Regions from separate parts of the Homo sapiens genome. Here region 1 is linked to region 2. A link means that fine-mapping ties the variant in region 2 to the expression of a gene that starts in the linked region. Tissue or cell type: whole blood. Region 2 holds a variant in brackets; the other region holds the start of a gene. All regions are shown on one strand. Distances are between the middles of the regions.

Region 1 (7,793 bases), 380 kb before region 2:
CTTTGACGAATTTGGTTTTTAGTAACATTGGAACAGAGGGGGAAAAAAAACCCACAGGGACCATAAAAGAAAAAAAAGGTCATTTTGACTCTATCAACATTTTTTAAATCACATAAATTACGTAAATAAATGCATATAATTAGGAGAAAAATATATGCATTATATGACCCAAAATGCTAGTTTTCTTAAGATATTTAGCTCTTACAAATAAACAAGAAAATGGACCACAGAGTAGAAAAATAAACCAGAGTATGAGCAGTTCACAGAAAAAGAAAAATCAATGGTTTGTAAACAAAGGTGTTCTAGATAATTTATAAATAAATAAAAATTAAAATGAGATATGTTTCATTTATGTGGCAAAGATGAAAAAGTCTAACATATATAGTATTGTTGAAGATAAAGGAAAACAAACACCACCATACACTACTGGGGGATCCAGGGATTGAAGCAAGTTTTTTGGAGGGATGTTTCCAAAAGCTATCAAATTATAAATGAGCAGACCTTTTGCTGCTGTGGAAAGCTAGCCAAAATAAGTTAGTAATTTGTAACTATCTATAAATTATAGATACTTTAAACTAGCAGTGTCTAAACTTTTTACAAATGCAAAAGTTTTTAGCATGCACCTCAAAATGTTATTTATAAATGATATACATATGCTACTAAACTGAAATTTATATTACAACACATCCCCACTAAAAGAAGTTGAAAAAAAAATCTAACCTGAATTTATTGGCAGCAAATTTAGCCTGAACTGACATGAGGTTAGTTATAGTGTTTATTTGTTCAGTGTGAAATTTGAGTATTTCTATGTTTCATTGTGTTTGATTTTCGATGCTGCCCCAGACACTGAGGAAGGTATTAGGTAATGTGTGGAATGTGCACACATAAACGTGAACAGAAGCACTTCTGAATTCTGAAACCCATCAAGTCTCAAGAGTTTTGGATAAAAGGCTGGGCACGGTGGCTCACACCTGTAATCCCAGGACTTTGGGAGGCGAGGCGGGAGGACTTGAGGTCAGGAATTCGAGACCAGCCTGGCCAACATAATGAAACTCCATCTCTACTAAAAATACAAAAATTAGCCAGGTGTGGAGGCGGGTACCTGTAATCCCAGCTGCTCAGGAGGCTGAGGCACAAGAATCGCTTGAACCTGGGAGGTGGAGGTTGCAGTGAGCCGAGATTGCTCCACCGCACTCCAGCCCGGGCGACAGAGAGAAACTCCCTCTCAATAAAGAGTTTTGGATAAAGGATTTTGGACCTGCATCACTTTTCCCTGGCAAATAGCAGGTGATAATAAGTGCTTGTTGAATGACTAAACTCTGATTCATCCTTGAGACCATCAATTATTTGCCTGCCAGTCCTATGAATGTGTTGAGGCCATTTGCCCGGTGTACAATAGGCCACAGACAGCTATTTAAATTCTTCTGCCTGCCTTCTATAGTTTTTGCTTTGGTTTGTCTAGTATTCCATCTTGTTATGAAAGCCACCAGCTATAAATTCTTGAGGTTATCAATATCCCTACCTAAAAGAAGTTGCTTTTTCTCTTCCATTTTTCTGCAGCCCTAGGAGCAGACAACTAAGCTTGTATAAAGTAAACAAACTAGTTCAGAATGAAGCCTTAGGAGCTTTGTGTTGAGTCCCATGTACACTTTGAGACACCTATTTTGGCTGCTTCTTGGGCCTACTTCCTGATTCTCAAGGTTTGGGAAGATAGAAGTTCCCCAGTCACCAACTTCTCTGTCATGTTAAGGGGAATAATTTATATTTTTACCATTTCAGGTTAAAAATAACTTCATATTATTAAGCATTAGAAAAGTAAGCTCCCTGAGGGCAAGGATTTTTGTCTGTTTTGCCCACAGCTGTATTCCTAATGCCTAAAACAAATATTTAATGAAGGAAGAAGCACCCTGAGTTTGAGAGAGAATATTTTGTCCTGATAGCTCCAGAAGATGGTATTTCTTGAGGAAATCCTGGATGTGTAGATAGAGCAGATGTTGTGAAATGCCAAAGTTAAAAGCAGATGAAGAGGCCAGGCGCGGTGGCCCACACCTGTAATCCCAGCACTTTCAGAGGCCAAGGTGAGAGGATTGCATGAGCTCAGGAACTTGATACCAGCCCGGGCAACAGAGCAAGACTCTGTCTCTACAAAAAATTAAAAAAATTAACCAGGTGTAGTGGCATGTGCCTGTAGTCCCAGGTACTTGACAGGCTGAGGCAGAAGGATTGCTTGAGAATAAGCTGCAGTGAGCCGTGGTCATGCCTCTGCACTCCAGCTTGGGAGACAGAGCAAGACCCTGTCTCAAAAAGAAAAAAAAAAAAAGCAGATGAAGTTAGAACTATGTTTTAAATGATAATATGATAATATTCAGAAATAGTTTGGTAGATCAACTCTTCAAGGATGGGGAAAAAACTGTCAGTATAAATACTTTATAACGTGCCTTAATTTCCAGACAAAAAGGCAAAATATTATTTTAAACAAAATGCCATTTTAAAAGGTCTAGAGCTAGAGCAAGCTGGTCTAACCCGAGGCCCATGGGCCGCTTTGAATGTGGCCCAACACGCATTCGTAAACTTTCTTAAAACATTGAGGTTTTTTTGCGAATTTTTTTTTTCTTTTAGGTCATCAGCTATCCTTAGTGTTAGTGTATTTTGTGTGTGGCCCAGGGAAGCCAAAAGATTGGACACTCCTTCTCTAGACTCAGTCTAGAACCCTCTCTCTACTACAGCTAAGATGAATGTGTGCTTTATTCTGAGCTAAATGTCTTAGAGGAAGGTGCAGAGGTATGGAAAGTTCCTCCATACCGGAAAACACAGTGAGGATGCCTGGGGAGTACAGAGGGAATTATGTGGCGTGCAGATTTGAATGCATGGATGAGACTTGAGAATTCTGATTGAGGACGTAAGGCCTGTGCGAGAGCCCAAAAAGCGTTCTCAGAACAAAGTAGCAAGGGGCGCGTATGAATTGCTGTGGTATCATCCGCAAGGGCTTTCAGAGGGGAAAAAGGACAAGGTTGGAAGGAGGCAGTTATGTTATGGGATGTAGGCAGGAATAAGAAGCAGTGCCAGGTAAGAGGGAGGAATCCAGGGGGATTCCTCTGGGGAAATCATGGGGAAAGGACTGTAGAAGAATTCGGCCTAGGTGGGATTCTGCAGACCAGCTGCAGGTGCAAGGACTAAAGTGAGCATGGGTGGAACCTAAGGGATGAAAAGACTGCAGGATCCTAAAGCGGCGGCCCAATCTGGAAGTGTCCGGGCTTTGGCCCAGGGCCCGGGGAGGCCAGGGCACGCCAGCCCGGGCCTGACAAGCCACGTTCCTACCGGTCCGCAAGCGTCCGGCCGCAGGTCTTGGAAGTCCGCGCCGTAAATGGCCTCCAGGGCCTGTAGCTCGTGGTCCTGTCGTTGCGGGTAGCTCTCCGGAGGCTCGTCCCGGCCGCGCCCGGGGGCCCCACGGCCCCCAGCCATGGCAGCGCTGCGCCCAAGGCAGGGCGGCCTTGCCTGGGCGGCGGTGGGCCCCCGGCAGCCTGCGGGGCGGGGCTCCGCGCTGGGGACGGGCTATGGGCGGTGTTCCACGCTGGAAACGGGCTCGTGGGCGGGGTTCCGCGCCGGGGACGGGCCGTAGGCGGAGCTCCGCGCCGGGAGCTAGCTCCGGAGGCTCCAGAAGCCCAGGCGAAGGAAGAAGGCAGGGGGACAGCTTTGCCCACATCCTGCTGGGGGAAGGGGAGCAAAGGAACTCCACGAACTTAAGAAATGAATCACAGATAGGAATGAAAACGCCACATTGTATAGTTTTCACGAAACAAGTATCTTTAACAGAAGTGCTTGCTGGAACTTCTCCACCCTGGCATGGCTAGTGCGGGAAACTCTTTTTTCTTTTTTTTGGCAGAGTTTCGGCTCTTGTTCCCCAGGCTGGAGTGCAGTGGCGCGATCTCGGCTCACTGCAACTTCCGCCTGCCGGGTTCACGCGATTCTCCTGCGTCAGCCTCCAGAGTAGCTGGGACTACAGGCGCGCACCACCACGCCCGGCTAATTTTTCTATTTTTAGTAGAGATGGTGTTTCACCATGTTGGCCAAGATGTTCTCGATCTCCTGACCTTGTGATCCGCCCGCCTCGGCCTTCCAAAGTGCTGGGATTACAGGCATGAGCCACCGCGCCCGGCCGGGAAACTCTTAAAGGGCAGACGTCGATGGGTTCTGAGGTCACTTCTAATTTCACCTTGTACCTTCCCAGAACAAGACTACCGGGAGTAAAAATTGTGACCCCCCCCACCCTCCTTCCTCCCACTTTAGTACCCCCAAACTTATTCTCTGAGCCACAGATTCAACACCCTCATTATGTTCTCTGTCTCTACATTCCCCAGCTTTGGGGATCTCCACTACCACCTTGCAAATTCAATTGAAAACTGTCTTTCCACTCAGGCATCTTTATGAGCTACCTTCCCATGAAGAGAATCATGTTCCCTTCCCAGTTCACTCAGTGTGAATTTAGGGAGTCTTTGTGTTATATCCTGCCTCAAGTCGTCGTTTTTCAAGTTTATAAAATAATAACCTGTCTACCCAGACATTGTTATTGCACTTCATCTTCAGTAACTTACTAATGCTGCATGTCCATTTCGAATAATCCTATTGTACTAACCCAAGTTAGGTTTAAGTGACGTTTCTTCTGTCTACCTTGCTTACTCCTCCACTGTTCACTAAATAATGATTGTGTAAATTCCTTGCTGCCATCTATCCACTCATTTCTGGCCAGATAACACAAATGCACTAGCTTGACCCAAGGCCAATTTAAATCATCATCTTCCCTCTGCTGGAGACCCGTTCCTTCTCCAGTGATCTCTGACTAGGTAAATGGCACCATTCAACTGAGTGTGATTCTGAATTCCCTTTCTCTCAACTCACATCCAAATAGTCACCACTTCTGTCCATCCACTACACTCTAACCCATTGCCACTAACTTAGTTCAGGCTACTGTCACCAATTCCCTGGGTTACTTCAATAACTCTCTTAATTAGTCACTGTCTTCATTCTTGCCCCACATTAAGCCATTCTTCCTATTGCAGCCAGAGTAATGTTTCTAAATTGCAAATATGGCCATTGCACTCTAATCCTTAAAATTACTCCATTTCTCTATTGGTCTTTAAAAAAATTCTTTTAAACCTATATTTATGAAAATGTCAAACATACTTAGAAGTAAACTCCTCTGTACTCATCATCCAGCTTCAACAACCATAGATATTTTGTCAATTTTATTTCATCTCTTCTCTCCATCCCTCAGGAGTGTTTTTTTTAAGTCTCAATCATATCATTTTAAAAAATAAATACCTAAGGATATATCTCTAACTAGAAAAGGAACCAACATAACATATTACTAATCTTATACCCTAAAAATGTAACCCTTTGGCCAGGGACAGTGGCTCACACCTGTAATCCCAGCACAAGGTGGAGGATCACTTGAGGCCAGGAGTTTGAGACCAGCCTGGGCAACATAGCGAGGCCCCATCTCTACAAAAAATAAAATAAAAAATTAGCTGGACGAGGTGACATGTAGTCCCACCCTCAGGAGGCTGAGTGGGAGGATTGCTTGAGCCCAGGAGTCCAAGGCTGCAGTGAGCTGTGATTGCACCACTGCACTCCAATCTGGGCAACAGAGTAAGACCTTGTCTCTTAAAAAAAAATTAACAATTTCTTAGCATCGTTTAATACCTAATCTATGTTCAAATATTTCCATTGTGTAAAATTAGAATCTATACTGGACGCTGGACCTATAAAAGATATAATTAAAACAAACAGCAAAATTTGAAAGGAATCTGTGGATTACATGGCAGTATTATACCAAATGCAGCATTAAGGGGGCAGTGACGTATTAAATATGCAGTTAGCTCCCAAATGATTCAGGAAAAAGAAGAGAGATGATGCTAAATCAAATGTAGAATGTTGAACATTGGAGAATTTAGGTGAAGGATATATGAGAGCTCTTTGAGTGACTTGAAAATTTTATGTAAGTTGGAAATTATTTTAAAGTCAAAGTTCAAAGCAAAAAAAATAAGAAACTGTCAAAGTGTTTTCCAAAGTGGTTGTACCACTTTATATTCCCATCAGTTTATGGGAGTTCCAGTTGTTCTACCTCTTTGCCAGTAATTGGTATTGTAATGTTTTTAATCTTAAACATAGTAATTGGTGCTTAGCAGTATCTCAGTGTGTCTTAACTTGCATTATCCTAATGATTAATGATGTTGGGCATCTTTTCATGTGATTATTTTCCATTCATATATCGTCTGTCTTCTGTTTTTATTCACATCTTTGGTGCATTTTAAAAATTTTGTTTTTGTTTTCTTATTAACTTTTGAGAAATATTTATATATTCTGGACATGTATTTTTTTTTTTTTTTTTGAGATGGAATCTCACTCTGTCACCGAGGCTGGAGTGCAGTGGTGCGATCGCAGCTCACTGCAACCTCTGCCTCCCGGGTTCAAGCAGTTCTCCTGCCTCAGCCTCCCGAGTAGCTGGGATTACAGGCATATGCCACCACGCCCAGCTAATTTTTGTAGTTTTAGTAGTGACGGGGTTTCACCATGTTGGCCAGGCTGGTCTTGAACTCCTGACCTCGTGATCTGCTCGCCTCAGCCTCCCAAAGTGCTGGAATTACAGGTGTAGGCCACTGCACCAGGCCGGACATGTCTTTTATCAGATATGTGACAGGCAAAAATATTCACCCAGTCTGTGGCTTGCTTTTTCATTCTCTTAACTGTATTTCAAAGAGCATGTTTCTTACTTTAGAGGACATTTAATTTGTCATTTTTTTCTTACATGAATTATGTTTTGCAGTCATATCTAAGAAATATTTGCCTATCCCAAGGCCAAAAAGGTTTTCTTCTATGTCTTCATCTAGATAGTGTTAGATTTTACCTTTTGGCCTATCATCCATTTTAGTTAAAAACTTAAGCATATACCTACTATATGAAACAGCAATTCCATCCCAGGCATTTACCCAAGAGAAACAAAAGCGTATGTCCATACAATGACTTGTATGTAAATATTTGTAGCACCTTAATTTGTAATATCCCCAAACTGGAAACAAACCAAATGCCCACCAACACAAGATGGACATATTGAAGTATAAACAAATTGAGGTATATCAATACAATGAAATACTATTCAGCAATAAAAAGAAATACATTATAGATACAGCAACAACATAGACAAACTCAAAATAATTATGCCGAATGAAAGAAGGCCGACATAGAGTACACACTACATAATTCCATTTACATAAAATTCTGAAAAATACAAATTTGGTAACAGAAAGAAGATAAGTGGTTGCTTGGGGATAGGGAGGACATAGAAGAGCCAGGTGGAGGGATTAAAGTGGAACAAGAAGAAACTCTTGGGAGTGATGTCTGTATACATTCATTATTTTGATTGTGGTGATCATGTCACAAGTATATGCATATATCAAAACTTATCAAACTGTACAATTTAAATATATGCAATGTGTTATATGTTTACTATACCTTAATAAACTGTTAAATGAAAAAAGGAAAAGGTCATTTTTTTGTTTTGTTTTGTTTACAGTGGTTTGTTTGAATCAAAATTCAAACAAGGTCCACACATTGCATTTGGTTGCTGTATGTGCAATACGGGGTTAACTAAGCAGGCTTGCGATGTATAAACTCCGTATATTTCAAAGAAAAGATTTGCCCATGACTGGCTCCTGGGAGATAACCTCTAAGTCCTTGAGACATTCTGCCTCATAAGGATGTCTTTGTATACTTGGGGTTCACAAACCAACTCATCA
Region 2 (7,793 bases):
CAGGGCACCCTGCTAAGCACCTCTTCTTGCTGGAGATGTGCCACAGAGCCTCACCTTTCCTTCGTAATCTTTTGTTAGTGTTCAACCCATGTGACTTGCTCTCCCTGCCAATTTGAACCTTTAAATGTCAGCAATTAAAATTTCATGAGCTGTTGTATGAAATGCTGCAACTCAAGCCCCAAACACAGCAGCTGCTGTGTTTCTTTTGTCTTCTCATATGGTTACCCTTTCCAAAACAAGATATCATGTTGTTTTGGATTTTTTTGTCCTTAAGAAAGCCGTTTTGCTTATTGCTTGAGACATTCCACTGTCCTTGATACATTTACAAACTATATTTTTAGCCACAACTATCCTTACTTTGCTAATTACAGATTTACAGGTGCTGGTTAGTTTCAGAACAAATGTCCAGACATTTTCAGTTTCCACTCCCCTCCACCCATCTGCTTCCCAGTAAGTTGTGAGAAATAATGAAACTTTTCACTGGTTTCTTACTCAGATCTTTGAACACCCCAAACTACTTATCACCTGGCCCCTTTGATTTGTAAATGTTCAGGTTGTCCAATTACTGTTTTTTGTATTATTTTCCATCAGCTCTATTTGTAGAGTCTATGAAGTCATGGCATAGTATCTAGTTTCCTTTTTATAGAGGAGTTCCTATCTGTGAGCCATGGTTTTCAGCTGAGGCCGTGCATTAGAATCCAGGGTGGAGTCTTTAAAAAATTCAGATACCCAGATACCTTTCTTATCCCCTATGGAATATTGATTTAGAAGGTTTGGGGTGGGGATATGAGCATTTATATGTTTCTAAAAGCTCCTGAGTTAATTCTAAGGGCACCCTGGTTGATAGCCACATTATGGACTGAGTCCCAGGTCTGTGGTATCGAGACCACCATACTGACTGGCCCCAGTAGGCCCTGGGGCCTGGTCTATGGACCCTGAGCCTGGGTTCTAGCTTCTGTTACCTCTCCCTGATGGAGAGGGTCCATTTGAGCAGGGGCTTGGCTATATGGAGAAGGTTGATGGGAAGACATGAAAGGAGGGCTTGGTAGGTGGAGAGAAGGGCAGGATGAAGCAGAAGACTGTCGCTAGTGTAGGGAAGACACGGCTGAGTTACAGCTTAGCCCAGAATGCCTGAGAGAGAGTGGTGGGAGTCCAGGTTGGATGTGGGTCAGGGCCTTGAACAACAGACTTCACGTGTACTTTACTCTTCATAAAAAGCAGTGGTGGAGGCCAGCCCTAAGGTATTGCCAGGTAATAATAGATGGTGAATCCCTGTAACGTCACCTCTGTAAATAAAGCCAAGTTTTGTCTTTCTTCTCTTCATTATTTCCAGGACAGATTATATAGAATCCAGAGCTCTTTGAAATAATTAAGAATGCACTTTGCTTTTCATGATCTTTCTTAGGAGGATTATAAAACCGATGGCTTGTTCCACACATTTTGCCTAGAGGCCTGGGTCCTGCCCAGGCGATCCCCTGGATTTCTTCACATTGCTCCAGGAACCTCACATCTCCCAGCCAAGGCAATCAATTGCAGCAGAATTCCAAAGGGTTTCCCTGTTCATGATGGGGTTTCTGCCAATGCCTATAAATAAATAAAATCAATGTCTTTTTTGTGTTTTTGCTGAGCTTTATTGGTTCCCCTTATGAGATGAGGAAGGATAGGATAAGAAATGAAGAACTTGTTTGTATTTAATCTTCCCGAAATATATTTGGGCAGACATTATTATCTGCATTTTGTGGCCAAGAACATTGAGGCTTAATCGAGGTTAAGTAACTTGCTTGTGGTCACAAAATAGTAAGTTGTGAAACTGGGGTAGAAAACCAGGTCTTTCTGGCCCCAAACCCATGCTTGCTCCATTATGCCACCTCTTCCTGTCTGGGTGGAAGGTCTGCCAGGGGATGTTGAGGCATCCCTGGTAAGGTTAAACCTCATTTACATTTTAAACCAGACACTAGTCTAGAGGCATGTCTAGGCTGATTGAAGGATTTGGGGCAGATTTAGGGTAGGCTATGTGCATGTGATGTCTGGGAGATTGATAATGGGCTAAAGTTGGGATGGTTGCAAGACCAACTTTGGCTGCTTTGCAGTTTTGCCCAGAACTATAGTAGCATCCAGGGAGCTGGTGCTCAAGCTGAGATACTAGCCTCTCTTTGGAGTTATTAACATATGTGTTCTCCAATTCAATATTGTTCTCCTGCTTGGCAGAGGAGGAGAGGTAAACAGATGCACCTGGGCAGATTTTCTTGAGTCGTTCCAGGTAATCTTTTCATAGGATGTTTCTGGCTGCTATTTCCCTTTCTTAGCACTCCTGGGAACATGTACGGGATGGATAAGCTCACGGCACTACTGTGCCTGATATTGTTGTGCGGTCTACCCAGTGTTGTGGGACTGATAAATCTGAGTTGCTAGAGTATAATTTCCATGAGGGCAGTGTCCAGGTCTATGTATCTTCAGTATCTAGCACAGTGCCTGATACATAGCAAGTGCTTTAAAAATATCTGTTGGATAAACCCAAGTGTTCTGGTTTCACATGGGCTTTTCTTCATTCAGTGATTCTACATCAAAGAGATTTCCCCAGGGCTCTAGAGAGTATGGAGAAGAGTTCATTATAATGCCTTTATTTTTTCACTGTTATGTTTTTCTTTTAACCATGAAGTCATTTTGGGGTCCCTTTGTTTTGTTTGTTTGTTTTTTAGTTCTCTAGTCAACTCCTTCTGGGATAGCCCTGCATTTTAATCACATATTAGAGAAAAATGAAGTGAAAAGGGAAGATAAAGCTATCAGCACACCTTGATGACCCCTGAGAACACAAAATCATGGACTCTATTTGCTCTGAGGAACTCCACATCCATGGCCAGGCTAGGACATCTGTGGTTAGAAGGGGCAGGGCAGGGACAGACAGGGACTGACACTCTTCACTGAAGGAAAGGCCACAAAGAACTCAAAGACAGGGCTCATCTCTGCATGGAGCTTAAATGTCATCTCCCCTGTCTATAGCATAGGCCAAGTTGCCATGTGAGTGCGGAGCAGTGGTTGGGGAAGGAATGTCTTTAATCTTAAATTTCACTCCCTTAAACCTTCAAATAATCAATTTCACGTGTTTGAAATATCTTGAGTGGGAGTAAGAAATTGGGAAAATGAGAGTGTTTGGTTTGTATTCAGGTCTAGAAAATGTTAAGAGGCTTGGTGGTGGAAAGGAGTCAGATTCTTTGACCTGCTTTGGTGTGGTTGTGTTCTGATGAAAGTGAGAGAATGTGCACCTGGGATTATTTAAACATGTGACATAACAACATCACAATTAGTTTGTCTCAATATACAATCTTATTTTCTAAAAGCACTCCCCTTCCCTTAATGGTGGGTCTGGGTTACTCCTTCCTATTGCCTAGAGATACTTGGTAGTAACATCTCACATGAGTTTCTTTTCTTTGAATTCTTTTCCTCTATGCTTGTGATAAAGGTCTAAAGGTAGTAGGGTTTTGAGGTGGAGATGATCAAACAAATTTCTTCTTGCCTAATTGTCAAAGTTAGCCAAAGAAGTCAGATGTCTTCAAGAGTTAAGTTGTTAACTAAGACAAATCAACCAAAGCCAGGCCAGCCAAGGGAAAGCAGAGGCAAGCCGACCAAAACCACACATCTCTAAGACACTCACTGCAGAATGGAATTCCGGAGGGCAAAATGGTACCTTAAACATTTTAAATTCATGCTTAATTCTACTCTACAGCAAGCCAAGTGTCATTTGTGCTGTTCTTCAAATATCCAGTGCTAGAGAATTTACTATCTTTATTTTACCTAAAAATAGGTCTGGCTATGAGATCAAATTTTACTCAATTAAACAAAATTTGACTATCTCCTTAGATTTTTTTAAATATATTTACCACTGGGGTCATTGCATTTCTCTTAAAGGTGATAGTTCTTTAAGTAATATGTTTGCAAACCATTTATAATTTTATAGTTCTATATCCTGCTGTTTTCACTTAAAATTATATTGTGAACATTTTCCTATGTCACTATATTTCTCAAAAATATGAACTGTAATGGCTGTAAAGAATTCTATACCATTATGTTAGCTATTTCTTTCTTTTTGAACATTTAGATTCTTTATAGTTTTTAAAAAATTATAATGTTACAACAGCAAACTCAAAACTATGATTTAATCTCTCATTACCTTAGACTATCTTAGATGTGAGAGTACTGGGTTAAAATGGATGAATGTTTTCAAGGATTTTGATATATATTATGTTTTGGATCATGT[T/C]CCAATGAAATAGACTCAGAGACAGAGAGTCTCTGTGTGGGAATTTTTTAAAGGAGTGCCCTCAACGCCCTTGAGAGGGTGAGGAAAAGGACTGGGCAAAGGAAGAAGATGAACTATGATGTATTGCAACAATGGCCTCAGCTGATCCTGAGGAGCGCTGGAGTTTGGAGCTCTCCTGTGAGTTGTCCCAAGCTGAGGCAAGGGGGCCGAGCTTTTGTGCTCTTGCATTGACTTCTCATTGGATGCAGGTTGTCTCCAGGGAGAGGTCATGACCTTGGGTGAGGCATCTCCCTTTGGCCAAGAGCAATTCCAAAAGAAAGACTCAACAGCTAGCTGTCAGCAGATAACATATCTGGCCACTGGGGGAATAAGCCCTCAGAACTGAAGCGGGGAAGCTTGTGGTGCATCAAAGTGATTGTTTCAGTTACCCCTTTCAACTCTTGGACCACATATTTCTTATTTAAAAAAATCACCCTATCTGGGAAGAGCTCCTCTAGAACTCTGGTTTGCTTCTTTTCCTAGGGAAATGTACAAGAGGAAGATTAATGGGACAAACTGTAGCTCTCAACAATGCAGCTGTTCTCAGGGACACAACTGACACTCATCAAATCCCTTCTTTACAACCCAGTGTAGAGTTCTCTTCCCCTTGGCTGAAAGCTCTGCTCCAGGTGGCTTACCTGGTTGGGTGACCCAAACCTTCATCCATGAAGGATCTGAGCCTGTAGTCATCATGCCCTTCTCAAGCCATGACTACTACTTTTATCCATTTACCATTACGATTGGCTAGGGTATTACCAAGAGATGCCCAAGAAGTCCTTCTGGGAGCCAAATAGTCTTTTCTGTCACCATGTGTAACAATAGCTCAACCTTCTCCTGATCAATTACCACTGCCAAAATGGTGATGCCTTTTTTGGCCTGTTGACCTCTTGGCACAAGAAACATAAAGTGCCAACAGCTGTAGCTTAAAGTTTAATGGGATTCGTGTAGTGTTCCTGGTATAAGTGTTTCTGTTCTTGGAACCAGACTCTCTAGAGCTGCAGAGCTCAGAGTCGTGGAGATGGAAGGGATGAATTCCCTGGGTAGGTTATTGAGTGAGATGGTAGGAGGGATTAGCCCTATTTCCACCCTGAACCATGTAATCTATATAGAGGAGACACAGTACTGTATAATAGTCACTTATTATTAAGGGTGGACACTGCATCCTGGAGGATGCGGGATGCTTAAGGACTCCAGCCTTAAGTATTATATTGAATGTGGTACTTCAGCAATACTTTCAAAAGGGTGTTCCTTTACCTTATAAAGTCAGCAGCTGGTCCTGTGCTCATCGTTGTACCTCTTTTCTTCTAAAGTGAGTTTCTGGGTACAACAGGATGTTCTGTGGGCTCCTGTGTTAGTGAATCGTACATGAAGTAAGTCCTTAGATAATGGTGCCGGCTGAGGATCTATGGGCAGGAATGGCAAACCTGTATCCTAAGTATGTGTTGATTTCCTTCAAGATGAATTGCTGGCCCTTCCATGGAGAAAGAGGTTTAATGTAATTGCTGTGCCACCACATGGCCGATTGGACTCTCTGAAGAATTGTTCTTTGTCAGGGGCTCGGCAGTAATCTCTGTTCCTGATAGATATTCAGCAGCAGCAGAAACTAGATCACCTATTTTGTAAGCTGCCTTGCACAGCCTCCGTGCCTGCCACCATGATTACTCTGTTCATATGCCTGCTTGCCAGCACTGGGGTGATTAATGAGAAAGGGCTGTCTGACATCACCTGGCCAAATCAGTCTGTCCATTTGACTAGAAATTGCCTCTTCCATGGTAGGCGTTAACATGGTATACAAAGATCTTCATGAAGCTCTTTGCACTTCATGTCCACTTCCGTATTCCTCTTCCCCAGACCTCCTTATTCCTTATCTTTCACTCTTTCTCCTTCCAGGCCACTAAGCAACCAGCCAACCCATTTACAATTGCCCATGAGTTTAGATATATTTGACCTTGAGCCACTTTCCACACAAAGTGAGTGGCCAGGTGCATCACTTGAAGTCCATTGGGAGGATGTCCCCTCACTGCTGTCTTTTAGGGTTATTCATGAGTGGGACTGAGAATACTAAAGACCTTTTCTGGTTTGTATTCCTACATCAAACTGGCCCAACTGTTTTGAACAAAGCTTGGCTTTTCCCTTCCTCTATCAGCTGAACATAAGTGGTGCCCATATAGCCATAGCTGGTGCAACAGTGGTGAATGACATGAGGACTTGGGTCATTAGCTCATGCAATTTTCTCGTTTTTTCCCTCCCACTTGTGTTGATGTATAATTGACAAATAAAATTGTATACACTTAAAATATACAACATGATTATTTGATATAAGTATATATTGTGAAGGAATGATTATCACAATTATGTTGGTTAACATATCCCTAACCTCAGATAGTTACCATTTTTGTTTTTGTGGTGAGAACACAGGATCTATTCTCAGCAAATTACAAATACACAATACAGTATCATTAAATATAGCCACCATGCTGTACATTAGATCCTCAGAGCTTATTCATCTTATATTAGAAAGTTTGTATCCTTTGACCAACATACTCTTATTTCCCCTAACCTCCAGCCCCTGGAAACCATGATTCAACTTTCTGTTTTGGTGAGTGTGACTTTTTTAGATTCCATATGTGAGATAATACAGTATTTGTCCTCATTTTTCTGGCTTATTTCAGTTAGCATAATGCCCTCCCGGTTCATCCATGTTGTCGCAAATAGCAAGATGTTCTCCAATTTTATGGCTGAATAATATTTAACTACATGTATACCACATTTTCTTTATTCATTTGTTGACAGGCAGTTAAGTTGTTCCCATGTCTTGGCTATTATGAATAATGCTGCAGTGAACACAAGAGTGAAGATATCTCTTTGAGAGATTGATATTATTTCCTTTGGATATATAGACACAGAAGTGGGATTGGTGGGTCATATGGTAGTTCTTTTTTTAATTTTTTGAGGCAACACCATACTGTTTTCCATAACGGCTGTGCCAATTTACATTCTACCAAGGGTACACAAGTTTTCTCTTTTCTCTATATCCTCACCAACACTTACCTCTTGTCTTATTGGTAATAGCCATACGAACAGGTATATGGTGATGTCTTATTTTAGTTTTGATTTGCATTTGCCTGATGGTTAGCGATGTTGAACACCTGTCCATGAACCTGTTGGACATTTTTATGAATTTAGAAAAGTGTCTATTCAGGTCTTTTTACCATTTTAATTATGCTGTTAATTTAATACATTAAAATTAATTTGAGTATTAATTTAATAAATTGAAATTTAATTTAATTTTAGTTAAATTATTATTATTATTTGCTACTGAGTTGTATGAGTTCCTTATATATTTTGGAAATGAACCCCTTAACAGATACATGGTTTGCCAATATTTTCTCCCATTCTATAGGTGCCTTTTCATTTTGCTGATTCTTTTGTCATGCATAAGCTTTTTAGCTTGATGTAGTCCTATTTATTTATTTTTGCTTTTGTTTCCTGTGTTTTG

The links. PIP is the estimated chance that this variant, and not a neighbour inherited with it, causes the effect.
Region 1: EIF2AK4 starts here. The variant in region 2 is fine-mapped to the expression of EIF2AK4 in whole blood (INTERVAL, PIP above 0.99).

What each region holds. Positions count from the first base shown.
Region 1 is chr15:39,929,865-39,937,657 of GRCh38, reverse strand. EIF2AK4 (eukaryotic translation initiation factor 2 alpha kinase 4) reads right to left here and starts at 3,543. Exons shown (of 39, transcript NM_001013703.4): 1 at 3,319-3,543. The coding sequence starts at 3,462. RefSeq lists a silencer at 3,261-3,670 and an enhancer at 3,691-3,830.
Region 2 is chr15:39,546,823-39,554,615 of GRCh38, reverse strand. No RefSeq gene overlaps it. Among named protein-coding and RNA genes, the nearest start is that of THBS1, 30 kb to the left of the region's middle. The variant T/C (reference allele first, on the strand shown) is at 4,256.